Linked DNA regions of Homo sapiens. The protein of the gene in region 4 purifies or fractionates together with the protein of the main gene of each other region. This does not show direct contact. Each region holds a gene or a part of one and is shown on either strand. Other genes may lie near its edges. The genes, in order: TPR, CAP2, RRBP1, STYX, COA6, FBXO38 and LRPPRC.

Region 1 (3,946 bases), on a different chromosome or scaffold from region 4:
TGGCAGACTGTCCACACACCAGATTAATTACTGAACATAAACACCCTACAGAAATTCAGAACTCTGATGGACTCACATCTAGATTTCTAGTAAGTGTATGCCTTTGTTCCACCTCATTTTCCAACTTCTTCTTTAGATGAGAGATCTCATGTTCCAGTTTTTCTATCTGGCTACTAAGCCTTTGTTTGGTTTCTGTTTCAGATCGCTCCAGTATTCCCTAAAGCAAAGAAAAGATTTTTGGTTATGCTTAAGAAAAAGGCAATACAAAAAAATAAAAATTGAAGGCAAGAAAGAATTACAATATTACAACCCATTTCTACATGAAGCAGCTAAAATCTACAGTATTTATCAAGAAAGTATTCTGGTATTTTTTATATTAAAACATCTATTATACAGGAAAGAGATGGAATGTATTATAATCGTCATTCAGATTTCCCAAAGTTTTAAAGAAAATAAAAACCAAAGAATTAATCTTATAAATAGTAAAACTGCACAGGACACTGTAAATATACCTGAGGACTTACCAATGTATGGTTTCAATCAATTCTCTTTCAATATTTTATTTAAAATATTTAAATGTCTTAATAAACTGCAAAATTCAATGATCATAATGGATGACAAAAGTGATGGATAAATTTTCTAATTAAGGAAATTGAGAGGATAAAAAAAATCTAAATTTAACTTTTATACATTTTTTCTACATAGGCTTTTTATTTGGTTACCTGAATTGTTTGCAGATTAGTTAGCAGTAAGTTTTGCCCCCTTTGTTCAGCTAACAAAGACTCTCTTTGCTGAGAAAGACGAACTTCAGACAATTTAAGCATTTCCTTTTCCTTCTTCAAATTTTCTGCTCTTACCTAAACATAAGTAGAAATGAAATAAAAAATGCTGAAAAACATGGTGTCAAGTGTATTAAGATTATAAAATTAAAATGATTCATACATCACTACTTTTTTTTAATGCTCTTAGGGACTATATCTCCTCATTGTATAAGGAAATACAAAACAGTTTCATGTGCTAAAATACGAAGCAAAAATTATTGGGGATCATCAATGAAAAAATCTTTCAATTACAAATACTTATGGTTCCTTGCTCTAACAATCCACAGTTTAAAAAATAACAGCAAGAAAAATTTAATATGTGAGAAGAAGAAAGCAGAATTGCATGACTGCTGTAATCATTCATACCTGACTACTATTAAATTATGTAACTTTTAGAATCCAAGCCGGTTTCAAAGTACCTGTTTAAAAGTGATGATTGATCTATTTAAAGTTTCTCCCTCCCCTCAACCCCAAGAGTCTGAGTCTCAAGGGGACCAGGGAGAGTGTTTTGAAAGCTCAAAGTACTCATATTTACACACAAGTACTCATATTTACACACAGATTCATATAAATGATCAATGATAAAATTCACTCTACCAGTTTGAAAAAGTGCTGCTGCCCACTCCTCACAATGGAGTTGGAGCAAGATAAAAATAAAGAATACAGCCTTATAAGAGCATTATAAGACATGGGTTCAAGTCCTAACCAACCCATCTCTCATGACTGTCCCAAAATAGGCAAATTATACATTAGCTCTTGAGTCTGTTTTACACAGGTAAAATGGGGGACAACTATACCTAGCTTACAAGTAATGATCAAAGACAGAAGAGATAACTGAATAACAAAGAAAACTATATAAAAAATTTATCATCACAAAACTAAGTATTTAGTTAAAAGTAATAATTTCAAATGGACATTTATATTCAAGTTAAAATTCAGAAATATAAATTCAATGCAATGTAATTTTTATATTGCTTTTTATTACAGATGAGCAAGAATGAATAACATATTCGTCTGGCCAGGCACTGTGGCTCATGCCTGTAATCCCAGCACTTTGGGAGGCTAAGGCGGGCAAATCACGAGGTCAGTAGATCGAGACCATCCTGGCTAACACAGTGAAACCCCATCTCTACTAAAAATACAAAACATTAGCCAGGTGTGGTGGCGGGCACCTGTAGTCCCAGCTACTCAGGAGGTTGAGGCAGGAGAATGGCGTAAACCCGGGAGGCGGAGCTTGCAGTGAGCCAAGATCGTGCCACTGCACTCCAGCCTGGGCGACAGAGTGAGACTCTGTCTCAAGAAAAAAAAAACCAAAAAAAAAAACGTCTTTGTTAGAACCAAACACTGACCTACAAATTTATTTTGAAATGCAAGACTTGCGAGTATATCTTAGCCCAGCAGAAAAACAAATTCCTTTCCCTCTTCTATCTTAATAGAAACAATCACCCCACTAACGCACACTGGCTATTTGCAAACTATGTATTAATTACTTGGTGTAACCTCCAAACTTCTTAAATACCTAAGTCCTATCAGTGAGTAAAATTCAAAGTAAAAACTAAAGAAATGTCAAATGCAACTTATAATGCAAGTTGGACAAGGGATATTGGACTCACTTCTGCGACAGCTAGCTTCTCATTTGCTCCTCTCAAATCTTGAGTCATCGTATTGATAATCTGTTCTTGCTTTTGAGTTGTGGCAGTGAGTTTCTGATTTCTCTCATGAAGTGATGTTATTTCTCGACGATATCCTTCAACATTATCTTGCAGCATTTCATAACTGGTATGAAAAAAGTAATTCTACAAGTAACTGAAATGATATCCTAGCTTAATCCCTTGAAGAAATTTCACAATAGCTTAACCCATTTCCCCAAATGCCCTGAGAATATTGTCTCTAATCCTAATGTAACATCATACATATTTCTGTTAAGTTGAATTCTGCTTAGAAATAACTCCAGGAACAGTTTTTATATTTTATTTTCACACTGAAAATCTGTCAGATTTGCCTCAACCTCAAACAGCATGCTTATGTAAAATTAAATGAGCGCTGGCAGCAAGCTGCACTTTTTTTTTTCTAAATGGGAAAGGGGTTAATTTTATGATTTATGAAGAAGTGGCTTGTGTAATAAGGTAAAACCTTCATTCTTTTTTCCCAATTCCAAATGTAGTGGTTCAAGTTCTAAGTAAGCAAAGTATTTCATGCTAAGTAACTTTTTAATCTTATTTTTAAAAAATCAATTATATTTAAAGTAATGACAATGCAATATTGATAACACCAGACACCCACTACAATGCAGTATACAAATTAAGTTATTATACAGGGTTAGTGATGGATTTTTGCTAATCCTTTTTTCTTCTATAATCCTCAGTTTTATTTTCTTATGTGCTTGAAAGCTGACATAATGGCTGGCTAGAGGTATCAACAGAGAAAAAAGAAGTGCTTTAATTGGGGTTGCTGAACTATTAGATGTATAGGGGTAACTGCCTGCAATATATCCTGCCTGCTATAAAACAGAAACAGTTTTATCATGTACTATATAAAAATAAATATTGTCCTAACAAACTAAACTAACAAGCATTCAATGAATTTAATAACAAATAATCATGAAATATTTATTATTTCTTTGGATGTGACCAAGAAAATTAATTCTCCTAAAACTACATAGCACTTGCTTCTCTTCTACCTAGAATAGAAAAGGTGGAATAAAATTTGCTCTCATTTCTCTCATCATCTGGTGCATTTTTAAAAGAATTAAGTCCTACCGAAACAAGTCCTTTAATCTTAGGAAGGTAAACTACCAACATTCCTCACATGAACTTCAACTTATTTTTATTTTATTTTATTTTTTTGAGACAGAATCTCACTCTCTTGCCCAGACTGGAGTGCAGTGGCCCCAATCTTGGCTCACCGCAACCACTGCCTCCTGGGCTCAAGTGATTCTCCTGCCTTAGCCTCCTGAGTAGCTGGGATTACAAGCATGCAACACTGCCGCTCAGCTAATTTTTGTATTTTTAGTAGAGATGGGGTTTCACCATGGTGGCCAGGCTGGTCTTGAATTCCTGCCCTCAAATGACCCACCTGCCTCGGCTTCCCAAAGTGCTGGGATTACAGGCGTGAGCTGCTGCGCC
Region 2 (3,946 bases), on a different chromosome or scaffold from region 4:
TCGTTAAAAAGAAGTAACAATGACTGAACCATTTTCCACCTGATACAGAACTACATGAGAACCATGGGTTCCAGAAATAACAGGCCTATTTTGTTTTGCTCAGTGATACATCTTTGAGGTCAAACTCCCAGAGTTTGTGCCGTCTCTTACAAAACAGCCTGAGTGGGAATCTGGTTTTCCTTTTTGGGTAAAGTTTCTACAAAGCTTGCTGATAAAACTCATCTTACTTTTGCAAAACAATTCCCTTACTTTGGGAGCCAAACAGAGATGAAGCTGATAACAGGACTCAGTTCTTCAACTTTAAAGCAGAAGCTAGGGTCATAAAGACATGGAGTCCTAAAATACTCTTCCAAAGTACAGTCGCATCCAGCTAAGATAACCCTTGGAAACGTTTGCTGAAAACATGCAGTTTGTTCATGCATCTCTTCCATGTTGGTCCTTTCCACCTTCTGTCACAAGCCACAGAAACTAGGGGAAGGCCAGGGAGCAGGTTCAGCTCATCTTCACCTGAATTCTGAGAAATTATTGAGAATCAAAGAAACCTCAGTGAGACGTTAACAAAAAGTAATCTGAGTGACATCTATGTAAAAGTCATTGCAAAGCACACTAGCTGCTAGACATATCTGGGGAGCTACCACCAATGCACTCCCTTGACAGAAAACCAGGACACCTCTTAGATGAGCTCCTTCTTTAGTGGAAAACCCTTATGTAATTTTAATTGACATCAATGCAAATCAGCCTGTATTGATTGAGTGTGCCTAATATACGCTTAATACTGAAACAAGTTGAAGTACCTCTCATAGACCCCCCATTGACTTTTCGTCTGACATCCCACACAACCAGCTCCAGCTTTGATGGAAGTCACACCATCACTCTAATGTTCTCTTCTATTTTTGATTCCTGCCTTGAAAGTCAGGATGAACTGGTGAAGATAAGACTTCTTTAAAGTACAGGAGAAATCTATTGGCACAGAATAAAAGCACTAATGTTTATTAGAGTTGTGCAAATAGCTGTTGTACTTAGTTCTGTCAACATTGCTTTTTTTTTTAATGATGACAATTCTTCACATAATTGCCAAGCTAAAGCAAAAGAAAACTTTCTCAATCTTTATGATGCTTTCATCAGATAACCAATATAAAGTATCTTCCAGAAGACTCTGTCTCCTCAGACTTTAGAGTTTGTTCTAGGGAAGTTAGAGATAAACAAAGATGGCCTTAATAAATCTCTCTAATGTTATAAATATACAGTTTCTGGTTCTTTTTCCCCTTGGGGCAGTGGGCCAGGTATCATCAACAATACAGATATTCTGGCCTTTCTCAAAAATGTCATTACATTAAGAACATTATGACTTAGCAAATTGTTGGAGAAAATTAGGAAGCTTTTTTTAGTAGTTCTGCCATCATTAAAAATCAGCTGCCTTCTGGGGAAACTGATGCCACACCTTTGATCAGGTGTTGTATTTGGACTGAAAACAATCCCCCAAAGAAGGAGATGTTTGCTTTCTAAAGAATGAAGCTCCAGGGAGGGTATTTAAAACTGATTTTTGGCAGCCATTAACAAACAAGCATGACATAATTGTATTTGGGGCCAGGAGTGTTTAGAGGGGTTTTTGTTTGTTCTATTGTTGAGAATTTGGAGGTAAGGAGTCCCTGAACTGCCATTACCCCTGCATTGGTTTGCTAGGGCTGCCCTAACAAAGTACCACAGACAGGTAGATTAGAAACAACAGAAATTCCTCACAGTTCTGGAGGCTGGAAGTCCAGGATCAAGGTGACGGCAGGGTTGGTCTCTCCCCACGCCTCCTCTGTGTGTGTCTCTGTCTTCATCTCCTCTTCTTATAAAGACACCAGTCAGGCCGGGTGCCATAGCTCACACCTGTAATACCAATACTTTGGGAGGCCGAGGCGGGCAGATCACAGGTTGAGACCAGCCTGGCCAACATGGCGAAACCAAAACCCCGTCTCTTCTAACAATACAAAAATTAGCTGGGTGTGGTGGCGTGTGTCTGTAATCCCAGCTACTTGGGAGGCTGAGGCAGGAGAATTGCTTGAACCTGGAAGGTGGAGGTTGCAGTGAGCCAAGATCGTGCCGGTGCACTCCAGCCTAGGCGACAAGAGCAAAACTCTATCTCAAAAAAAAAAAAAAAAAAAAAGACACCAGTCATATTGGATTGAAGCCCACCCTAATGACCTCATTTTAATTTAATCATTTCTTTAAAGACCCTATCTTCAAATATGGTTGCATTCCCACCATATTTAAGATCCTTTCTCCAAATATGGTACTGGGGGTTAAGGCTTTAGCATATGAATTTGGTTGGGGGGCAGGTGCACAGAGTGCAGTCCCTAACAACTCTGATTCAAGGTCTTTTCACCAAATCCATAAGCCCTTTGCTTTGTAGTTGTCAGAAGGGAAAGAGAGGAGACAGGAAGATATTCATGGCTTTTCCACAAGAGCTGACTAGCTTCTGCAGCAAATGTTTTTGTTTTTCCCCTCCTTCAGTAATGGATAGCTAAAAAGTCCACTGGGAACCTTGAGAGCACTTTGCTTTCTTTCCCTGTATTTCTTTGTTTCCCCCAAACAGAAGTGTGCCTCTGTCCCTCAGCATATGTCAGTTAGGAAACCACTCTCCTTGTGTTTGCATATAAGGGATGGGAAAGAGCTAGTCAGTGAACTCGGCCAATCAGAGGCTTTGTAACTGGCAGATACCTTGGAGAAAACCAGCCACCTGTTGTGCACCCACAGTATACCTGACCCTTTACCAAGCATGACATGTTCTCTCATTTACTCCTCCTAACATACCTGTGAAGCAGGTACTGTTGTCAACCCTAGCTTGCAGATGGGACAAGGGAATCTTGGACAAGTGTGGTAATTGGTGTAAAGTCCCAGAGCTGAGTACACTGTGGAGCAAGGATTTGAACCCAAGAAGTCTCATTCTAGAACCTTTGCTCTTAATCTCTTCTAACACCTTTCCCTAGTCTTATTGGTAGAGAAGAAACCTGTATGTAGAGAACTAACCATATTTTTCTCAGCACCCAGTATCGAGAATTGTCTCAGGGCCTCCCCGAAGACCTAGCTTCCAGTTCCAGCTCCACTAATCATTGCTAGCTGGTCTTGACATAGTCAATTAACCTCTCTGAGCTCGTATTCCATATGTAAAATAGGAGAATTGGATTACGGCCATGTTTCTCAAACTTTTAGGCTAGATCCATAAAAAGAAATACATTTTATTTGGCAACCCAGTACACACACAAACACACACACACACACTTCATAACCAAAACAAGTGTTTAATACCAAAATATCCATCCTTATTACATGTGAATGCCCTCTGATATTTTCTATTCTAATCTATTTTCATGATTTTTAAATATTAATTGTGACCTATTCTATTGGATTTGTCAAAAAGCTGAACTAGGTGACCCAGTTTAGACTCCTGGAATCCTAAAATCCTGTTAATCTATATAGATGTCTGTTTGGAGCTTCTCATATCTTGAATGCATATTTATTTTAAACAAATGAATATCACATATTACAGGGGACAACATCCTTTTTACCTCTGGTATGAGTTAACTGCATCATGGAAATAATAATAATTACTTCTATTTATTGTGTACCTCCCATGTGCCAGGGCTTTAAAATGCAGTATCTCCTGTAGCCTGTAGGTGGTAGGTATTCTCTCTGATTTATAGATGAGGAAACTAAGGATCTGATTAAGTAATTTGCTCAAGGCCCCATAGGCACCAAAGCTGTTTGAACCAAGGCCATTCTAATTCCAAAGCCCTTACATTCAACATTCTTTTCAGAGGAGGGTATATAAAGGGGTTTAGAAGGAGAGGTAAAGTCTAAAAGCTACCGCAGCTGCACATAATTTATTTCCTAATAGTTTGCTGTCCGTGGCAGAAATGACTGCCCTCTGGGGTGTGAAGCCACCGCTGCAGCAATGATT
Region 3 (3,946 bases), on a different chromosome or scaffold from region 4:
GGGGCCTCTGCAACCTCAGGGGCCTTTAACGAGACTCACAGGACAAGAACGATGCCTCCGAGCCCTGGCCCCATGACAACCCCCTTAACAGCCACACCATGGCCACCCCAGGGACAGGCCCTGCCTCTTGGTGAGGACTCTTGGTGGCTATTGCCGGGCTCAAAACTCTGGAGAGCGAATATCCTGCTAGCGATGTCCCAGCCGGGGTTGCAGTGGGAGACAGTCCCCTTCGATGGCTGCAGACCCTGCCCAGAGCTGCTCCTGAGCCCTGTAGGTGCAGACCCCAAATCACGGACTCCCTCTTCGAGTCCCACCTCCCCCCAACTCCTCCAGCCTCTCCACCTGGCCACCTTTCTGTTCCATGCTCTGTGGCTTTCTCCGAACCTGGATGATCCAAATGGGGCAAAGCAGGGTGGGGTGGGGAAGCAGCGGAGGCTGGAGCAGCCAGTGCGGGGTTTAGTCCGAACGGAGGCAGCAGGGCCTGCACTCTTCTGGGATTAGTGATGTGTCTGGGGACCAGCTCACCGCCCTAACCTGAACGGGGTCCTGCTCGGCTGGGGGCGCCTCTGGGGAGGAAGCTGGGGCCCCAGCTATGTCACCATCCTCTACGTGGCTCTTCATTTCACTCAACTGCTGCCTGACCTGGAACAGGAAGGGGTGTGTTTGCAAATGCACAGCCAGTCGCACACCCACCATGCTCACTCCTGCAGGGACCCCCTCGGAGGACCGTAGCTGCTCTCAACAGCCAAAGTCCCTTCAGGGGACCTGGCTTGGTAACTGTGACCTATGTCTGGCCACCCCCGCCGCCAACCTGAGCCAAACCAAGGCCACCAAGCCTCTGGGCTAATGAGACCCAATGTGCTCTGCTCCAAGCCCAACCGGAGGGGAGCCCTCCCTGGGAGTGAGGTGACCCCTGATGGGCATGGCCCACAGAGCAAAGGAATCCGAATGGAACCGGGGGGTGGCCGCCACACTGTCTACACCCCCCGTTTCTCCTTCAAGGATGCAGTCCACTGCTCAGAGCCCTTTCCGGGGTCTAGAAAAGATTATGAGATAACATTCTTGCCTAACAAGGTCCCCCACCCCTACGCTCCATCACTGGGGTTAGGTGGCATATCTGGCTGCACCCAAACCACTGGGCCTGCAATTTGAAGGGCAGGTGTCACTCGAGAGGCTCAGGTAGAGGTTCCAATTGGAGACCCAGGTGGGGCCCTTGGCATAAGCTCCCCAGGGAACATGGGCGGTCTCTGACCCTGCGCTGAGGGGCCACCCCAGGTACGTGGGAACCCCAGACATTCTTCCCTCCCTCTGAACAGCCCCTCCCAATGCAAATAACGAACTGCACAGCTGGAAGACAACAGAAACTCCAGGGGGTTTTCTCTGCACATCCCCGGCCTGGGCCATGCCCCCGGGGCCTGTCACCCAGACTTCGCTCAGCCAAGGCTTCAGTGAGTGGCCCCTAGACACAGGAGGAGACCTGGCCTAGGCAGCACTGCCCTCTGGTGTTCTGGTCCGGGTAAGACCTGAATGACCAAGGGGGACCGAGGGTGTTGGGAGCGTGTGCCGGACTCACTGGCTGCTGCAGGGGGAATGCCAGCCCATTTTTATTTAAAATTTCCCAATTTCTCCCTGTTGACAACTAATTCAAGATTTAAAAAAACACCGCAGATCAAACAGAACATGTCTGCGGCCTCACAGGGTGCTGCTCACAACACCAGCCTTGGGGCGGTACCAGATCCGGTGAGGCTGGGTGGAGCCTGCCAAGGAGCTGGGACTTGGCATCAGACACCTGAGCTGAACACCAGGAGGGACTCAAGAGGCCACCTGCACAGGCAGAGCTCCAGTGGTCTGCCAAGGGGGCTGCTCTCTGCACCCGGCAGCTGGTATGGGGCCGGGCGTGGAGCAGGTCTTCCCTGCATGCCTGTGGCTTTGACTGAATTGATCTGAGCTGTCACTGAGGTGAGAAAACCCACAGAAGGCACGGGACTTGCTGAGAGCCCCAGGGCGATGGGTGGCCAGGCCAGGAGGAACCCCCAGGCTTCCTGGTCTTGTGATGCCAGGGACTGCAATATCCCTGACGCCCCCAGGTGACTACAATGGGCTCACAGGGAATGCAGACGCCCAGAGCTCTCACTACCTTGAACAGGGGACCAGGTAGCCAGGGGACGGGAGATGGAGTGGGAGCACCCTGGTCCCAACAGCCACAGGCCCAGCTCAGAGTTCTGGGCAAATGTGCAGGAAGGCCCCCAGAAGCCGGCCCCATGCTGCTCAACGGGTGACACTGTCCCTTCCCTAGGCTTTATCTTTGAGTGGACACAAACGCATGACTGGCAAATGCATCTCACACACGCAACGCCCCAGGTCACACTCCTGGCATGGGGACATGGAGGCCACCTACCAGGGCAAGCTCATCGCTCTGTTTCTGGGCTTCGCTCTTGGCGGCATCGAGCTGAGATTGAGATTCTAGGAGAAGTTGCCTCAGCTTGGGGAGAAAACAGAGGCGGGTGATGGGAAAAAAGGAGAGAAAAGGAGAAAACCAGTCCCCGTGAGTTAGCGCCGAAACATAAAACCTAACACATCCACTTAACCAAAACCCTGAGGAGGGTCACAGCATCGGGCCGGCACAGGGCTCGCCAGGCTTCCTACAGCTACGATTTCTTTTTTGAGGACTTAGGAAGAATGGTGTTCACTGCGTACCTCTTTCAGGCCTTCACAAATGTTTACTGATTATCTCTGGCAAAAAAGGGCCAAAAGTTGGAGATGATTTTTTTTTTCAGAGATGGTCTCAATCTGTCATCCACGCTGGTCTTGAACTCTTGGGCTCAGGCAATCCTCCTGCATCAGCCTCCTAAGCAGCTGGGAACGGAGGTGCCCACCAGTGTGCCTGGCTTTTTTTTTTTTTTTTGGTAGAGATGCGGTCTTGCTATGTTGCCCAGGCCGGTCTCAAATTTCTGGCCTCGAGCAATCCACCTCAGCCTTTCAAAGTGCTGGGATTACAGGCATGAGCCGCTGTGCCTGGCCCAAAAGTTTGAGATTAAACCAGAATTGGGATACTGGGCTTGTGCTTCTGCTTCTGAAGAGCAGAAAAAGTGTCAGATCTAAATCCACTCCCCACCAGATATGACATCAGCAAGCCAGGCAGAGAATCCCCTTGCGGAGGGATAACCTAGAACGTCAAACGCCTCCCTCGGGGCAGGGCTGCCTGGCTCTGCCCCTGTCCTGGCTGGGAGGCTGCCTTTTTGAAACCTGCCCTGAGAGACACCTCAGGCCTGACAGCCCAACGAGGGGCCTGTGAGGCTTCGGGCAAACGCCTGAGGACTCGGACTTCAAGGCTTATGTCACCGAGAGCTGCTCCCACAGGGCTGAGGAGAAGCAGCTCAGGGAGGACCGCAGATCTGCTGGGCAGGGGCTGCACTCCTTGGGGGGCAGACTCACCCCTGCCACCTCCTTGGCGTAGTTCTGGCACTCGGCGCTGGCGGCCGCCATGTGCTTTTCCAGCTCTGCCTCCAAATGCGACGTGTGCTCCCTCACCTGGACAGATGCACAGACACGCACACGCATGCGCCAGCAGCCTCTGCTCAAAGGGCACTCACCTCAGGGAGCAGGCTGGCCCTGGGATAGGTGAGGCCTCTCGGGAGATCCCTGAGGCCCACCAGCTACCAAGCAAACGAGAAACTAGTCCGCGGCAAGAGAACCCCTTACGGAAAGTGGCAGGCTGCACCCGGGCACTCCTGGGGACTGACATGCTCTTAGATTTACTTGCAAAAGCAGGTACCAAGGGTACCTTCTCCAGGGCTCCCTGTGGCGTCTGAAGGGGGCAGTGGGGCCACCTTGACTGTGAAGGCCGTGGCAGAAGCCCTGTTCACCAGGGCTGGGCAGGTCTGCACAGGGCCCGTGGCTGGGTCTCAGGGTCCTCTGAGGTAGTCAATGTCTCTCATTAAGGAAA
Region 4 (4,476 bases):
AGATGCTGGTGAAAAGAAAAGACAACTTCAGTTTCATAAACACTAAAGAACCAAAAATACATGACCTAGCTAATTATACAATAATTCTTCAAATTAAAAACTTCCTAGCAGGATATTATGTGCCTTTTTATAATTTTAGAAGATGAACAGTTAAAATAGAAAATGGAGTGGTCAAGTTAGCCATCTCATACTCAAATTATTGTACAGTTCTATTTCTATGTGTTGGCAGTGCATTTTATGTGACAAAAAGTAGAATGTAGGGGGAGGTTTAAGTCAAATATCTATGTGATCTTTTCACTTATAATTTGCATTTAGTTAAGGAGTGACTATCTTGCCTTTTACCTTTGTGCTGGCGGTGGTTTTTTAAAGAATCAATTTGGTGTACAAATCCTTTCTTTCTTTTTTTATTTTTGATTTTTTTTGAGATGGAGTTTCGCTCTTGTTGCCCAGGCTGTAGTGCCATTGCACTATCTCAGCTCATTGCAACCTCCGCCTCCCGGATTTAAGCGGTTCTCCTGCCTCAGCCTTCTAAGTAGCTGCGATTACTGGCATGCGCCACCACACCCAGCTAATTTTTGTATTTTTAGTAGAGACGGGGTTTCTCCATGTTGGTCAGGCTGGTCTCAAACTCCCGACCTCAGGTGATCCACACGCCTCAGCCGCCCAAAGTGCTGGGATTACAGGCGTGAGCCTCCGCGCCCGGCCCAAATCTTTTCACCATGGGTTTACAGGCATAACGCCACCACACCCAGGGAATTTTAAAATTGTTTTTTAGAGAGGGGGGTCTTACTATTTTGCTCAGGCTGGCAAACTCCTTTTAAAAGATATTGAAAGCCATCTGGTTTATTATTTTTATTTCAAAATATAATAATGGAAGAAATTTTACAGTATTATATACAATTTACTGAGTCAGCTATCAGTTCCTTTTTCTGATTTTTTTCTAGTTGCCATTCTTGATATTTTCTAGGTAATCTAAACTGAGTTGTATTTTCAAGTACTCTTAAAATACTTTAAAAAATTTTAAATTGAGCCGTTTAATTCTTTGCTTAAAGGTGATGGGTATTTTATTTTCTGTATGGCACCACGTGATTTTAAATTGAACTCTTCATTTATTAGTCATTTGGTTATAAACTCAGCATAGATTGCGCAGAATTTTGAGAGGGGAGAAACTATAGCTTTCCTTTCGGATGCCACTGGTGGGTAGCCTGTTTTGCCTGTTTGTTCTTATGTTAAAGAAGGGCTCTACGTCCTGTCTGGAAAGGGCGGAGCTGGCTCGGACCGCCCCACTGCCTTTCCCAGGACCTTCACTCGTCCTGTCCCACCGCAGCCCCGCCTCCTCCACGCCGGGTGAGCTGTGGCCTAGCAGCATCCGAGGCTCCGCCCCCCCCACCCCCAAGCGTCTGCGCTCTAGCGAAGGGGCGGAGCAGGGCGGTGGCGCGCTGACACCTGGCGGCGGCGGAGGGCGGGCAGAAGGCGAGCGTGGGCTGGGATTGGCTGAGGCGACGCGGGTGGAGGGGGCGGGAAGGAGGCGGGGAGACGGTTGTCGGGCTGGTTCCTGTGCTGGATCCTGGGCGGCCTGAGGGGTACGGAGACTCTGGGGGAGGGAGACGGCAGCGGCATGGCGGCCGGGTGTAAGACGCCCGACCCTCCTCTTCCCTGTCTTCGCCGCCGCCGCTGCTGGAGTCACTGGGACCCTGTAGTCTGCGTGTGTTAGTTGTAATCCCGCCGCCCTCCTGTCAGCCCTCCGCTCCGCCGGCCCTCCTTCCTTCCGCCGCCGCAGCCAGCCCGAGGGTCGGCCGGCTGTGTAACACTCTCCCACCCCACCCACCAGCCCGCGGGCCAGCACCATGGAGGACGTGAAGCTGGAGTTCCCTTCCCTTCCACAGTGCAAGGAAGACGCCGAGGTGAGTCGCTCCCGTGGCTGCCACGCACAGGCCTCTCCCTGTGGCTCCGGCCGAGGGGCGACCCCAGTCCCCAACCGTCTTAGCCGCCACCTGTACGGGCGCCCTGCCTCCTAAGGGCGTCCCGGGACCTCTGAAGCCGAGCGGTCGGCTCCAATCCCCACTGAGTTGCTCGTCCTCTCCAGACCCCGCGGAGGGGCAGCGTCTGGTGTACTTACATTTGAGAAGAGGAAAAGCAATCCCTTAGTCCCTAGGCTTGGCATCCAGGACTGACCTGGAGTAAGGTTCCTCTTTTATTGTCAAAGTAACAAGAGAGCGAAGTTGGTTTAGTCTCCTTTTGAGGAATATCTGTGGTGTAAACGATTCACTTGTGGGACACATGGCCCCACATGTGAAATAGACTCGGCGCCTGAAGTTTGGAAGCGCGCCTTCGAAAAGTTTCCCAAAGTTTTTTGTTTGTTTTTAGACAAAGCTATGACCCGCACAACAAAGTGTCTCAAAGCTAGCTCATCTTAATCTGAGAACTCTTAATCAGAAATCTTGACCTTTGGAGGAAAATTAATATTGAAAGTAAAATACTATATACCTTTTCTCCTGGTTTCTAATTTGTGGCTATTTTTACTCCACCTTAGATCCCTGCCTGCTGTTTCTACTCGGATTTTTTTTCATCTGTTGCTAGTTTAACATTTTACGGCATTGCAGACTACTAAATTAGAATTTTCTGGAGGCTAAATTAACAAGACGAAGATACTCAGCTATACTTTAGTAGGATTAAGAAAGAAAATCTAACATCGCTAGTTAAAAATACCTTTAAAGTAGTTGGGAAAAATAAAGCCCTATTTTTAGGAGACCATTCAATTTATTCCGAATATTTATTCTATTGAATATCTTCATTGGAGGTTCACTTTTTTTTTTTTTTTTTTTTTGAGACGGAGTCTTGCTCTGTCGCCAGGCTGGAGTGCAATGTGGCGCGATCTCGGCTCACTGCAACCTCCGCCTTCCGGGTTCAAGCGATTCTCCTGCCTCAGCCTCCTGAGTAGCTGGAACTACAGGCGCGCACCACCACGCCCAGCTAATTTTTGTGTTTTTAGGGGAGACGGGTTTCACCATTTTGGCCAGGGTGGTCTCGATCTCCTGACCTTGTGATCCGCCCGACTCGGCCTCCCAAAGTGCTGAAATTGCAGGTATGAGCCACCGCGCCCGGCCTAGGTTCACATTTTTGTTTGGAGGGCTCTCTTGTGGTATTGATGCTTGACAATTACATTTGTTTTAAGAGTAGAGACTTTGTTTGTGACTATCACTGTTGCAAAATGTAGTGCAGTGGTGTGATCTCGGTTCACTGCAGTCTCGAACTCCCATGCTCAAGCCATCCTTTCACCTCAGCCTCTGGAGTAGCTGGGACCATGCCGGGCTAATTTTTCTTTTTTTTTTTTTTTGTAGCGATGGGTTTTTTCTCCAGGCTGGTCTCGAACTCTTGGCCTCAAGATCCTCCCGCCTTGTCCTCCGAAAGTGTTGGGATTACAGGTGTGAGCCACTGCACCTGGCCCAAGAATATACTCATGGTTTTTTTTTTTTTTTTTTTTTTGACACAGAGTTTCACTCTTGTTGCCCCAGGCTGGAGTGCAGTGGCGCTGTCTCAGCCCACCGCAGCCTCTGCCTCGGGTCCCGGTTCAAACAGTTCTCCTGCCTAAGCCTCCTGAGTAGCTGGGGATTACAGGCGCGCACCGCCAGGCCCAGCTTTTTTTTTTTTTTTTTTGAGACAGAGTCTCACTCTGTCGCCCAGGCTGGAATGATCTTGCAGTGGTGCGATCTGGGCTCACTGCAAGCTCTGCCTCCCGTGTTCACGCCATTCTCCCGCCTCAGCCTCCCGAGTAGCTGGGACTGCAGGCACCCGCTACCACACCGGGCTAATTTTTTTGTATTTTTAGTAGAGACGGGGTTTCACCATGTTGGCCAGGATGGTCTCAAACTCCTGACCTTGTGATCCGCCTGGCTTGGCCTCCCAAAGTGCAGGGATTACAGGCGTGAGCTACCGCGCCCGGCCAATATACTCTTAGAAAACAGGAGGTCATATTTAGGCTAGTTATAAAAATGAATTTATACTTAACATACAATAATGTGAATGAAGAGTATGCTTTTATTTATTTATTTATTTTTTTGAGACGGAGTTTCACTCTTGTTGCCCAGGCTGGAATGCAGTGGCGTGATCTCCGCTCACTGCAACCTCCGCCTCCCACGTTCAAAAGATTCTCCTGCCTCAGCCGCCTGAGTAGCTGGGATTACAGGCGCCCGCCACCACTCCCGTCTAATTTTTGTACTTTTAGTAGAGACGGGGTTTCACCATGTTGGCCCTGCTGGTCTGGAACGCCAGACCTCAAGTGATCCGCCTGCCTCGGCCTCCCAAAGTGCTGGGATTACAGGCTTGAGCCACCGCGAAGGAGTATGCTTTCATATCCTCAAAATGATTCAGTAATTTCAGCACTTAACTGCAAGCAACCTTACAAATAATGTAGAGGAGTCCCACATTCCAGGTGAAGAAATTGTACCTTACTGAAAATAAGTGATGTGCCAAATT
Region 5 (4,726 bases), on a different chromosome or scaffold from region 4:
GGAAGAAGTATGTGGGGTCTGGAATCAGACTACTGAGTTCAAATCCAGGCTCTGTTACTACAGGTGACTTCATGTCAATGTGCCCTTACCTATAAAACCGCTAAGAGAGTTCCACGAGGGATAAATAAGATAGATGACACATTTCAAGTGTGTAGAGTGTAGAGTGTAGAGGATGTACTCAATTCATGTTAGCGGTGACTAGGACGCAGTGACCTGGAGAGAGGTTGGGGCCTCAGGGGATGGCACCCAGTCTGCTTGAGTGAGAGAGATGTACATACGATCAAGAACCAAATGGCTGGTTGTAAAAACCCTTTCTGGCACACAGACTGGAAGCTGCCCCGGAAGTGTGGGAGTGGGAGCCATCAGGCTGGAGAAAAAGCAGTGGGTTGCAGGAGGAGAGAGAGGATAAAAGTGGGATCGAAGGGGAACTCCTTAAACCTGGAGTTCCTCTCAATGCATCTGTCTAATGGGAAAACTACAGATGTATAATATTTTCTTCTGGAGTCATTATCTAATTCAATCATAGAGTCCCACATTGATCAGTTTTCAGTTTACATGTCAAGTTATGCATTTTGTTGTCATAACAATCCCACGAGATAGGTTGTAACAGGCTGGTTTTACAGATGAAGAGTTCATCTAAAGCAATGCCTGGCCAGACGTGGTGACTCACGCCTGTTAATCCCAGTGCTTTGGGAGGTCGAGGTGGGAAGATCACTTGAGCCCAGGAGTTCGAGCCCAGCCTGGGCAACATAGTGAGATCCTGTCTTTACAAAATAATTTTAAAAATTAGCCAGGCATGGTGGCAAATGCCCATAGTGCCAGCTTCTCAGGAGGTTTAGGCGGGAAGATTGCTTGAGGCCAGGAGGTCAAGGCTGCAGTGAGCTATGATCACGCCACTACACTCAAGCCAGGGTGACAGATTGAGAACCTGTCTCTAAAAATTAAAGAAAGAAAAATAAAGTAATTTCTGTTCACTGTGTTCATCCCCAGCTCAGCCACCAATACGACCCCTCCCTGCATCACAGCCTTCTTGTAGCCTCCTTCAGAGCCTTTTAAAGGTTTGAGGTATGAGAGGGCAAAACCCCTAAAACCACTTCAACTCTAAAAGTATCTGTTTTCCAACTACATGGTATATTTTGCAGCAGCATAAGACAGTGAAAAAGCACAGGCAAATCCAAGTTCAAATCCCACACCAGCCAGTTAGGCCTGCCTTAAAATTACAGTTTTGCCACTTGCTGAGTAATAACAAGCGAGTTACTTCAATGCTCTGAGCTTCAGCTGCCTCCTCTGGAGATAGAGAATAACAACGTCTCGCTCTGTGGCCCAGGCTGGAATGCAGTGGCGTGATCTTGGCTCACTACAACCTCCACCTCCCAGGTCCTGGTTCAAGCAATTCTCCTGCCTCAGCCTCCTGAGTAGCTGGGATTAGAGGCATGTGCCACCATGCCCAGCTATTTTTTTTTTTTTTTTTTTGTATTTTTAGTAGAGATGGGGTTTCACTATGTTGGCCAGGCTGGTCTTGAACTCCTGACCTCGTGATCTGCCCGCCTCAGCCTCCCAAAGTGCTGGGATTACAGGCGTGAGCCACCGCACCCAGCCAACAACACCTATCTTAACAGGTACTGGTGAAGATGAAAATGTCAAGCACTTAGCACACATGGCCACTTACTAACCTCAGTAATAGTCCTCTTTCCAATCCCCCCTTATACTAAGGACAGGGGATACAGCGCTTGAATGCCTGTCAGGGAGACAGAATCCACCATATGAACCTTTTCTTTCTTCTGCTTACCAAACTCCTTTCTTTATATTTTGGGTATATGATGACTTACAGGATTTTTGGGTGAGCAACTGGGAATGCTTTATTTCTGATAGTAGCTCTAGGTCAATAATTTTGCCAACTCCTGCCCAAGATTAAATACTACCCCTTCAGAAGATCCTGGAAAAGTCTACCAGTGAAATGAACTGGAATTTTTTGGTTACTGTTCATATGTTTGTTGTGTTTTTCGATGCTCTTTAATGTGTCAGTTGACATTCTCCAAAGATCTAGCTGATGTAAGTGCGTCAAATAAGGCTGAATTACCAGGCAAGGTTTTCTCTGCGCCTCAAAGAAACTGTTAATTGACATGCCTCAGAGAGCGCTTCATGTCAGCCTACCACTCACAGTATAAGCTCGATGTATCTTAACAGGGAAGAGAAACACATCAAAGTGTGACTTACCCACTGTTGGGGACAACTTGATTCGAAAGAGCTTCTTAACTTCTTGCATTGAGAAGCATCCTCTAAGTTCTCATCTAAACACTTCCAGTACTCATCCCGGGCCCCCCAGCAGACCTGTCTTTCCTTCATAGATGGGGCTGCCATTCCTACTGCGATGAAGCTGTTGGCCAAAATAATATTTGAGATTAACAATGAACTTTGTAATCTGAAGAGAAGATAAGGAAAGAGGAAAACCGTCAATCTCCTCTTCCTTTAAAACTAAAAAAAAAAAAAAAAACAAAAACAAAACAAAACCATGCTTAGGGATTTTGATGAGGCAACTGAACCCAATCAGTTCTCAGTGGCAGCATAAGGCCACCCGCTCTTGAGGCTTATCTCACACTGTGTGATTTGATCCCTGCTGGGGCGGCAGCGTGGGCTCAGAAAGCCCGGCTGAGAACTGTGGTTCTGTCCCAGTCGCTTAGGGCAGCTCATTTATTCTCTCCGAGCCCGTTTCCCACCAGTAAAGCGGGGACAGCAGTGCCTAGTTTACAGGGTTACTGTTCGAACCTAAGCGCTGTAGAAACAGGTGTGTGGGGGCCACAATCACCAAGCAGGCGATTGGAGTGCCACCCCGTTTTGCACAAGAGGAACCCGCGGCTCGGGGACAGTAAGGGACCTCCCGGGCCCATAGTCCACGCGCGCCCCACCCGGACCCATCAGCAAGCCGACCTCTCTGCCCGCCCACGTCCGGCTTCCTTTCGATGTCGACGGGAGGAAACTGTCACGCAGGCCACCAACCGGCGGTGGAGGGCGCGGTGCCGAGTCCTGCCACTGCAGGGTCGCCCCGCTGGCTCAAGCTCTAGAAGCGTAGACCTCCCCAGCCGCAAAAAGCAACTCACGCGGCGAAACCGCGGACTCTTTTGACCCTTCCGAGCTACCATTTACTTTCCATAGAGGGGCGGGACTTCCTGTTTCGCTTTTATCTGTAAGACCGACTTCCGGCCTTCAAGGGCAAGAGGGGTATATACGTATATATCATCGCACGGTGTGTCCCGGAAGGCTTGATATGCTAGTCCCGCGGGACAAGGCGAGCCGAGGAGTTTGTGTGGAAGTTTGCATCTGAGAGTGCGAGAGCTGGACGGAGTGTTACAGAGCCGCGATGCCTTCTCGTTTTGTTTTGTTTTGTTTTTGATACAGTGTCTCGCTCTTCCGCCCAGTCTCGAGTGCAGTGGTGAGAACACGGCTTACTGCAGCCTCAAAATCCTGGACCCAAAAGATCCTCCCACCTCAGCCTGCCTCCCAGGTAGCTGGGACTACAGGCGCACAACACCATCGCTTCTTGGATTAAAAGAAAAGGATGAAACGGGCCCCAGAAAGAGGCGGTGACGTCCCAGAACCCATGGCAGGGGAGTTGGGAAAATAAATATTTGTATTGTTTTAATCTCCCTTGTGGCTTTTTTTAACCCCCGAAACAGCAAGGTATTTTTAAAAGGGATGAAGAGAGTTGCTTCAAATGTTTTGAGACGTTGTTATTTTTAATATGTGAGTGAATATCTTAGAAACAAAATGAACAAGAAATAAAAATTTTAGAAAATATATGAGTTAATCTCTCAGCAGAGTCTTTATTAAAAAGCATGTTTATGGTCAGTCATCTGGCACCCCGTTCTCTTAATAGATCCCATCTGCTCCATCATCTAGTTCTAAAACATTTATATAAGATGCAATTTACAATTTTGCACTCAGTGCAGTTTGATCCATTCCAAATTCAATATATGCAGACTTTTCCGGGTGGCGATGTGAGGCTACGTACCACCAAATATGTGTTCTGCAATATAGAAAGTATTTCCCCCATAGTTAATGCACTCTCATAGTGGAGTTACTTTAGCTTTACCAGAGCCACCCCCTTCTTTTACATCATGTCTATTGACGTCAGTTTACATATAGATATCTTTTAAATATGACTGATGGGATATAAAAGGAATGAAAGGAAAGAGTCTTAGATGACTTCTGAGTCTAAAAAGGAAATGTGTTTTAAATTTAAAATTTATAAGTACCTAATGAAAAATACATATGAAACAAAGTGAAGTGACAGAATTACAAAGAAAAAAAATGCCTGGTCATATTGGGTAATTTTAACAGGACTTTCTCACTAATCGTTAAGACTAGCAAGAGAAAAGTTAAGGATATAGGAAACGTGAATAACATGATGTAAAAATGACGCAATTAATATGTACAGAACAACACGACCAAAATCAGAATGTACAGTTTTTTGAAAGCAGACACATCACCACAGTCAACCACATACTTAGTTATAAAGCAACTCAAGAAATTTTGAAAATTGAAATAATTGTCATTTTTTACTACAGTGCATTTAAGATAGAAATCAATAAAGAACTGTAAAAACAAGCCTGAATAACACAGAGACAGAGTCAATGGTATTGAGAAAATATTTTGAACTGAACCATAAAATAACAATAGCAACACCTGTGGGATGAAACTGAAGCAGCACTTACAGGGACATTTATAG
Region 6 (3,946 bases), on a different chromosome or scaffold from region 4:
ATCAGGAGTTCCAGACCAGCCTGGCCAACATGGTGAAACCCTGCCTTTACTAAAAAATACCAAAAATTAGCTAGGCATAGTGGCGGGTGCCTATAATCCCAGCTACTCCGGAGGCTGAGACAGGAGCATCACTCGAACCTGGGAGGCAGAGGTTGCAGTGAGCCGAGATCATGCCATTGCACTCCAGCCTGGGCAACAAGAGTGAAACTCCATCTCAAAAAAAAAACCAAACCAAAAAAAACAAACAAAAAAAGTTATGTGAGTTGAACATCTTGTAGCTAAAAACTTTCAGAGATCAGAAATTGGATTACACTGGAATCTTACCTTAGATACAACTCTATATATACACTGCTTTTCTGTGCAGTATTTGCTACTCTTCTTTAAAAAGAGGGATTCAGGTCCAAGGCAAGAGAAAAGTTTTTAATAAACTTTTATTTTATATTCAAGATAAAGCATATACACAATTCAATGTGGAAATAAATTACTAGAAATACTCTGGAAACTTTTCCATTTCCCTCTCAAACTCACTTTTTTTTAAGCTCATAAGTCTTTTTACTTGATTTTAAGAAACATGGCAACTATAATACTAAGAAAGAACTACAGCTTTGTACAGAAACATAGAGCCTTGTCTTGACTATAAGGTTTAGTTGGTGTTTTAATAACAACAAAAAAGCACAAAAGACACAAACACTCTTCAACAGGTTTACTCAAACAGCTTCGCTCAAGAAGAAAAAGGCACAGATTTAAAGGGATGACAATAATCATTAAGAATGAAGTAAATGGAGACTCAGTCAAAAAATGATACTTCATGAATTAAGTCAAGAAAAACAAAAGTCTTTCAAATTATCTGTCTTCCTTAAAATGAATTTTTAAATTAAATTGTATAAACATATGATATAAAGTTGGTACTTTAGGAAGCGTCTTTGTATATTTTTTATGTACAAATCTTTGTATACAATTTCGATGTTCCTTATATATTCCCTATATAGCAAACCGAGCCAGGACCTCCCAACTGCATGCCTCAAGTCCCTGTGGAGCACTCTGGCAGCTGGATGGCCCTACTTGCTTTCTGACAAAATAGCTGGAAAGGAGGAGGGACCAATTAAATGTAGTCATCTTCAACTGGCTCTCCATTGACATCACAATAGTGGATAAAAATTGCCACTACTCGCTGAAATACACCCTTCTTCATCTGACGCATCTCTGAAATTTCCTCTCCTATTGTTTCCATACAGATGTCTGCAGACAGCTGTCCTTTCCTTCTAGGAGCATAGATAGTGCCTTTGAAATTAGAAATAAAAGGAGAGATACATATGATAATCAGAATCATTTGGAAAATCACTGATAAGCTGGTCCATAGGACAGTCCCATATACTGCACTATAATGTAACTGATGCATGAATAGGTCAAGGAATGGGTCACCACCAGTTTGTTCTTATGTTTGATGCCTAAGACAGAATACATGCTTAAAGTCTCAAGGTAAAAATACTGCACCAAAGGCAAGTCAGACACATGCACATGTAGTTCATAAAATCCATTTCCTTATAAAGTATTTTTAAAAAACCTTTGGTTAACAATAAATATTCAAGTATGCTACCACTTAGAGAAACTACATTCAAAAATTTCTCCCCTAATTTCTACACCTAAATTATAAGTTTCCACACAATAAGCAGCTCATAACTAGCAGGAGAATAATACAATTGGAACAATTTTGAAACAATATAGTTGAAGTTATTTAATAAATAAGATTATAAATATTTAGGTAATATAAAAATCTTGTAGGAAAATCTGTCTAAAGGAATCCTTTCTACCAGCCTTTATATATCCCTAGTAAGTCCACTGAACATCTACTGCACAAATAAAGAACTGTTTTGAAGTGAGTAAATACAAATTATTTCTATGGGAAACCATTTAACACTGCACTGCTCCTAACTCACAAAAAGATATTAAGTATGTAACACAGTAGGCTATACTTAAACTAGAGAATAGATGTCAAGTCAGGTCATAATTACTTTCTTCATCGTCTTCAAAGTCGTATCGAGCGAAGCTGTTGGGCTCTGCAGCTCGTAATGACCTCAGCCAAGGGAAGTCAGAAATCATGGAATATGGAGCTCCATCCACAACACCTAAAAGACAAATGTAACATTGCTAACTGGCGTGGGAGTGCTGACAGAGCCAAATTCTGCAGTATTTTGTAAGCAGAATGTAAAATATAAAATAAAGAGAGTGAGTCAGGTGTCCTCAAATCATTTCCAGCTATCAAACTAATTTGTAATTTCTGTTTACGTTTTATGTTTCATCACTGGTTCTGATTGTCCTAGAAATAGTAAAGACTCATACAGGCAAAGCAATCTTCATCTGGCTCCCACTTCTTGCAGGTATTAAAATCATCCATATTTTGAAGAACTGTAGGACCCCCATTCATATCTTCCCTAAGGCATGTTCGGTCATCTAGTTAATAGCTATTCAACTTTCTTTTTTTAAAAAGTGTAATTCTCTACATTTGGGTTACTGCTTGCTGTAAGCCCAAACCAGTTTGACTAATTGATTGATGGATCATTCATTCATCCGTGAATGAGAAAGGGCCAGGTTTTGTTTCCCAGGCCGGTCTTGAACTCTTGGGCTCAAGTGATCCTCCCACCTCAGCCTCCTGAGTCGCTGGGATTACAGAGGTAAGTACTGCACAGGCTATTTAACTTTCTAAACATTTGTAAATACTCACCTTCTAAAGTATAGATTTCTCTCCCCCAGGGGTACTTGGGGTATTTCTTTAAGTCTTCTTCACTTCGAGTGGCTTCAGGGAAGAATTCATATTTAATGAGCTCTCTGGAAGCAACAGGAAAAATTAAGTAAAAATTACAAAACTGGAAATAATTAGTGTCGGGTAGGAAGGAACCATCAAAACTGTTTCGGACACAGATTCTACCGAACATCTCAAACAAAACATCAAATACCTAACGGAAGTAGGATACACTCAAACTAGAGAATCCAAGTGTAGTCAGGTCAAAACTACTTTCTTCACTATCTTCAAAATCATATCAGGGAAAGAAAGTCACTTTCTAAGCATATGTCTTCTACACAAAAGGTGCTTAATGCAACATTTATATAACAAATTTATAAAAGTCAAATTTTCTGATGATATAGAATATCATAGTCTTAAGATCTTCTTCAAGTTGATCTCTTTTTCATGCCCCAAGGCTAAATAATGTTACAAGTACATGTGCAATCTGTTCTTGTAATTTTTACCTGAGTTTTAAAGATCATAAATATATACACATGCTTTTTAGTTTTAAGTCCTCATTTCCCTCAGTTTCTTACTTACGTTAACTTCAGGATAAGCTTGTTTGAAAAGCTTAGATGGAATCATTTAAAATAAAGAAAAATTGGGATTTGCTTCTGGGAGTCCCTGCTATGAGAAATGACTCAAAAGGCCTTTAAGGGCCACAAAGTTACTTACTGATTGATGTTTGCTATAGTGTCCATCCAGCTGCGAATGCGCACCTTATTCCGGACATTGGGAGGGTTACTGAATTCATGGATAATACAGATGTGATAGGGGTAGGGACCACTAAATAGCTTCTGCTCCAAAGTTAGAGTGTCCACCTGTGGAAGACATCATAAAGAGATGTCTTCAACAAAGAGAATGCCTTAGAAATCTCTCTCCGAGAGCTTGAACAATCTTTCCATGGACCTTCAGTTTTGAAATCTCTGGCTGATTTGAAAATCAAATAGTCACATTCAGACCTGAAAACAGTCTGTCATGCTGGGAATAATTTTGCAAATTCTTCTGTCTAGGGAACTTGGCAATTTATATCTCACTGTTATATTTAAATGCCTACTAAACCAGAGAATCCTGATTGAGATAAATGACGTCAGTCAACTCAGAATCCACTTCTGTGTATGTCCTTTATTAAGTACTGACTGCATTATAGAACTGTGAATGTGT
Region 7 (3,946 bases), on a different chromosome or scaffold from region 4:
CAATGAAGTAACACAAAAGACCCTTAGGTAATTTCATGTAGGGAAAACAAACTGCTATTAAAACAGCATTTCAAGCCCAGCAGGAATGTAAATTCTAGTGTATAATGCCGATTTCAAGTTAATTACTACTTGCATTTCTAAACGAGACTACAATTATAAATCCACAATAGCATGGTTTTATCATTTCCCTGCAACTTTGACTACAAATTATAGATAGGGACTATGTGCCCACTCTGTACCACATAACCCTGTATGGTCTGCCCTATAGCTGTAAGATCCTCCTAAATGGATGCTTTTATCGTTCAGAGCTAACATCTGCTAAATCACACCATTGTTTCTTCAGCAGATGGCTTGTCAGGAGGCCAGATAATAAAGATGTGTTTACACTGTATATACAGCCAGACTAATGGTCTGATACCGATAGGGCCTGTTTGCTATGTCGATACTAATTAGCCAAGCAGAGCCAATGAAAGCTTTCCAAAAGACTGCATGTTAATACATTAGATTCATTAAGCTTCATTAGGAAGGCAGAAACAAACATTTTAGGATATGGAATAAGTGCATTTTTATAATGTTGTTCTTAATTATTACACAGACAAAATGTTTTGACCACTTTACAAAAAGTGATTTTAAAAAAATAGGCTAATCCTTAGAAAGAGTTAGAAAGGCGTCCTAGGAAAACATTCAATGTTCTAATAAATGATTTTCTCCATACATTTTTCCCTATAATAAAATTAAAACAATCTTTTCTGAAAATCAAAGGAAAAGAGGAAGGCTAAAAAGGAAATTTCAAAATAAAGCCAAATCAGAAAGTTAAGAAACAAGAAAATAGTATGAATGTATTATCAAGTGTAATTAATTTTATTAGGCTTAGCATTATCTCAACGAGAAAATTTGAGTATGCAAATCAGCTGTGTAATCAGCTATGCTTTTTCCATGAACCATTAAATAAAAACCTTAATTAAAATAAAAACTTTAAAGTATATATTTTGTTAATGTTATTAAAAAGTAAGGCAAAGACTACTGCAAAATTCAGGCGCATATATTAGGTTATGTTTATAGGTTTTACGTTTATAGGTTTTACGTTCAGCCTTCAGACCTTCTTAAGCAAAAACAAAGCCATTAGTGCAGGCACATAAGCAAATTGTGCCATAAGTCATGATCTTCAAACTCAATCCAAACAGCAATGCTAATAAAAACTAGCTGCAGAAATGCAAAAAGCACTGAGCTGTGCAAATGTAAATGACAAGCTTGCCAATCCATTAAAACTAATGGCCTACACTGTCCATGTAGCTCTGGTTGGATTCACATGCAAATTTCTATGCAAAGTGTTCAAGCACTTTGCAGGACATGATATCCATTAATATCAATTCACATGTTATTCCAGTGGCAAGATACTTGCATCACATATTTCCTTTATGTGCTGAGGCTTACCTTGGAGCTTGCCATGCTTTGCCAATACTCTTACAAGGCCTACATACTTGCCGGTGTCAAGGACAGCAGATGAATCTAAGCGGTCACTAAAAATTAAAGCCACATTTATATTGTTTTAAAAGTCAATTAACTGCTAAAAGAACAGCAACATCCATTTAATCACTTTTCAAAAGCTCATCAGAAGACCTGAACTAATGTTGGCCTCTACGCTTCAGTTAGGATTTCTTTTTGAAGCCATATACAAGTTCACACGAAATTATATTCAAAGTGACTAGTGAAGTAAAAGCCCAACACTACATATATATTGCATCACTCCATCTGCAAAGGATACTTATGAAGAAACTCTTTGGCTTTAAGTGATTCTAACCTTCATCACGAATACTTGACATTTTTACTTGAAAAATCTAACAGGATAGGAAGCCAAAGGTACCTGAGAAATGGATAGAATTTTATTTACACTACAATATTGAAAGGGAAATGTTATCAAGCCTCTTAAAACAGTTACCACCATCACCACTGTTGTGATGATATATAATCAATGGAAAAAAACCTTTGGTTCTAAGGACTAGAATGTCTTATCATACTTAAACAAAGACACCTTGCTGAACATAAGCCACAATTAATTAAAGAGCCGTATAATACGAAATTTCAAAAACACTGACAACAAAAGAATTTTTAAAAATGACATTATATAAGAGAGTAATATTCCATCTAGATAATCTATCAAGGTCTGTAGAGCAGAATAAATGTTGACAACTTGTTTCAGTGCCAGGGTACTCACAATTCTTCTTTCAAGTTCAAGGCATCTTCTACTTTATCATGTCGACAGCATAAATTTATTAAAGCTGCATAGCCACCAGTAACCATGTCGGATTCATATTTTGCTTTCAATTCAAGGGCTTTTTGCATATTCTAAAATACAGCATAGATGTGAAAAAGAAGAAATCAGTGTGAAGGTAAAAATGTCACATTTTTAGCTTTACTGTTCAGAGTTTAGAAAAAGTTAATAGTACTTTAAAAATAAATGGTTTCATGTTAACAACCTGACTCTGCCCCTTGATATTTTTATTCACCTCTAAGAAGTGGGCAAGTCTTACACGTGTAGGGGTTAAAAGATGTGTTATCTGTAATATAAAATAGGCCATTATTTATGCCAAATTTGATGTTTTAGGCTTTGTGTATGGTATTATTTAAAAAAGACTTCCAGATTAAGTAATTCCCAAATCAAATCCTAATCACAGTCTAATTTCAGGATGCAGAAATATGTATCATTGAAAAGTTTCTCAGTCTAGTTTAGTATCCAAGTAATATGAAGAAATATTTTAGAATTTAACAGTAGCAGATTATAATCATAAAGTTAGTCATGATATTTTTTCCCTAAAACTACAAGTTTATGGCTCAATTATATTGAACTAGAAAGTGAAAAATAGTCTAGTGATATCCCACAAATTGCAGACATACACTAAAATGAACACAAAGTACAGCTGGATGCCCGCTGAAAAAAGGCAAGGGACCCTTTATCTCAGAAAGAGCTTTTTTCCAGCAGGAAAATGGAATTTCAATCCCTGCATTAACAACCTAGTAATATTTGACTTGCAAATGACTACTGCGTGTATCAGTTGCTTGACAATCTAGATATAAGAGACCGGAGCCATGGCTTGAAAGGACATTTGGCATGTATGATAAACCTATCACAGCTGTTACTATCATTCACTTTGCAGATTATCGTAAACAAACTACAGCAACCAGAAAACATGCCATTCAAGGTGTAGCTGAAATTAGTTAACCTTTCATTTAATTGCATTCTTTACAAGCCTGACATATAACGATCAATTGTAAAAATCATAAATATTATATTTGGTTTTTCTTATTGTTACCAAGAATTTTTTGCCTTAATAATATTTAAATATTAAAACAAATGTTACCTCTTCTGAACAAAGCACTAATATGAGTTGCTTTAGGACATCTCTTATAGGTTGATTTTCAGCTTTTAGTGTTTCAAGTGTGGACTCCAATTCAGATGATGTAAGTTGCACAGTCTACAGAAAAGAAAAAAGAAAAGAAAAATTTCCTGAAAAAGGAAATATAGTATGCCTTTTGTCACTCTTCCCTTTAAACTGACTTTCCTTTCTACCTTCCTAAATGTCATAAATGCTATCAGGGATATTAATTGGGGAATCCATGGATGGACTCCAGGGATTTACAAACCTTCTGAGATTATATGCAAATTTCTTAGATATGTTGATTTTTCTGAGGTGGGGAACAGGTTTTACCAACTTCTTAGAGGTATACAAGATGATAAAAATGTGAGGAATCACTGGTTTTATAAGTACACAATCCAGAATACTCATTAAATATGGGTATTATAGCATGTAGAATCTAGTCAAAATCCTACTTACTTTTTGAAAGTCTAAATTCTTACTCTCAACCAACAAGTGAGCATCCTAAAATTGAAATTTAAATTAGCCCAGAATTAGAAAACACACGTAAAAATACATCAGCAAACATCAAA

The links.
Region 1: the proteins of STYX (region 4) and TPR purify together in Homo sapiens (affinity purification with mass spectrometry; one study listed by BioGRID and IntAct). This does not show direct contact.
Region 2: the proteins of STYX (region 4) and CAP2 purify together in Homo sapiens (affinity purification with mass spectrometry, with the first as the bait; one large-scale study listed by BioGRID). This does not show direct contact.
Region 3: the proteins of STYX (region 4) and RRBP1 purify together in Homo sapiens (affinity purification with mass spectrometry; one study listed by BioGRID and IntAct). This does not show direct contact.
Region 5: the proteins of STYX (region 4) and COA6 purify together in Homo sapiens (affinity purification with mass spectrometry; one study listed by BioGRID and IntAct). This does not show direct contact.
Region 6: the proteins of STYX (region 4) and FBXO38 purify together in Homo sapiens (affinity purification with mass spectrometry; 2 studies listed by BioGRID and IntAct, with this or other methods). This does not show direct contact.
Region 7: the proteins of STYX (region 4) and LRPPRC purify together in Homo sapiens (affinity purification with mass spectrometry, with the first as the bait; one large-scale study listed by BioGRID). This does not show direct contact.

Annotation. Positions count from the first base shown.
Region 1 is NC_000001.11:186,351,254-186,355,199, forward strand, and holds part of TPR (nucleoprotein TPR), read right to left. Parts: intron 2,598-3,946; coding exon 2,435-2,597; intron 858-2,434; coding exon 723-857; intron 218-722; coding exon 77-217; intron 1-76.
Region 2 is NC_000006.12:17,501,474-17,505,419, forward strand, and holds part of CAP2 (adenylyl cyclase-associated protein 2), read left to right. Parts: exon of another isoform or gene 1-514; intron 515-1,740; exon of another isoform or gene 1,741-1,875; intron 1,876-3,946. UniProt on the Homo sapiens protein: Involved in the regulation of actin polymerization.
Region 3 is NC_000020.11:17,616,198-17,620,143, forward strand, and holds part of RRBP1 (ribosome-binding protein 1), read right to left. Parts: intron 3,532-3,946; coding exon 3,436-3,531; intron 2,483-3,435; coding exon 2,399-2,482; intron 643-2,398; coding exon 535-642; intron 1-534. UniProt on the Homo sapiens protein: Acts as a ribosome receptor and mediates interaction between the ribosome and the endoplasmic reticulum membrane.
Region 4 is NC_000014.9:52,728,628-52,733,103, forward strand, and holds the start of STYX (serine/threonine/tyrosine-interacting protein), read left to right. Parts: upstream 1-1,538; 5' UTR 1,539-1,847; coding exon 1,848-1,904; intron 1,905-4,476. UniProt on the Homo sapiens protein: Catalytically inactive phosphatase. Acts as a nuclear anchor for MAPK1/MAPK3 (ERK1/ERK2). Modulates cell-fate decisions and cell migration by spatiotemporal regulation of MAPK1/MAPK3 (ERK1/ERK2).
Region 5 is NC_000001.11:234,371,881-234,376,606, reverse strand, and holds the start of COA6 (cytochrome c oxidase assembly factor 6 homolog), read right to left. Parts: upstream 3,152-4,726; 5' UTR 3,141-3,151; coding exon 2,929-3,140; intron 2,925-2,928; exon of another isoform or gene 2,889-2,924; coding exon of another isoform or gene 2,767-2,888; exon of another isoform or gene 2,378-2,766; coding exon 2,218-2,377; intron 1-2,217. UniProt on the Homo sapiens protein: Involved in the maturation of the mitochondrial respiratory chain complex IV subunit MT-CO2/COX2. Thereby, may regulate early steps of complex IV assembly.
Region 6 is NC_000005.10:148,439,304-148,443,249, reverse strand, and holds the end of FBXO38 (F-box only protein 38), read right to left. Parts: intron 3,604-3,946; coding exon 3,458-3,603; intron 2,827-3,457; coding exon 2,723-2,826; intron 2,127-2,722; coding exon 2,013-2,126; intron 1,282-2,012; coding exon 1,103-1,281; 3' UTR 414-1,102; downstream 1-413. UniProt on the Homo sapiens protein: Substrate recognition component of a SCF (SKP1-CUL1-F-box protein) E3 ubiquitin-protein ligase complex which mediates the ubiquitination and subsequent proteasomal degradation of PDCD1/PD-1, thereby regulating T-cells-mediated immunity.
Region 7 is NC_000002.12:43,943,898-43,947,843, forward strand, and holds part of LRPPRC (leucine-rich PPR motif-containing protein, mitochondrial precursor), read right to left. Parts: intron 3,879-3,946; coding exon 3,834-3,878; intron 3,474-3,833; coding exon 3,360-3,473; intron 2,347-3,359; coding exon 2,216-2,346; intron 1,521-2,215; coding exon 1,435-1,520; intron 1-1,434. UniProt on the Homo sapiens protein: May play a role in RNA metabolism in both nuclei and mitochondria. In the nucleus binds to HNRPA1-associated poly(A) mRNAs and is part of nmRNP complexes at late stages of mRNA maturation which are possibly associated with nuclear mRNA export.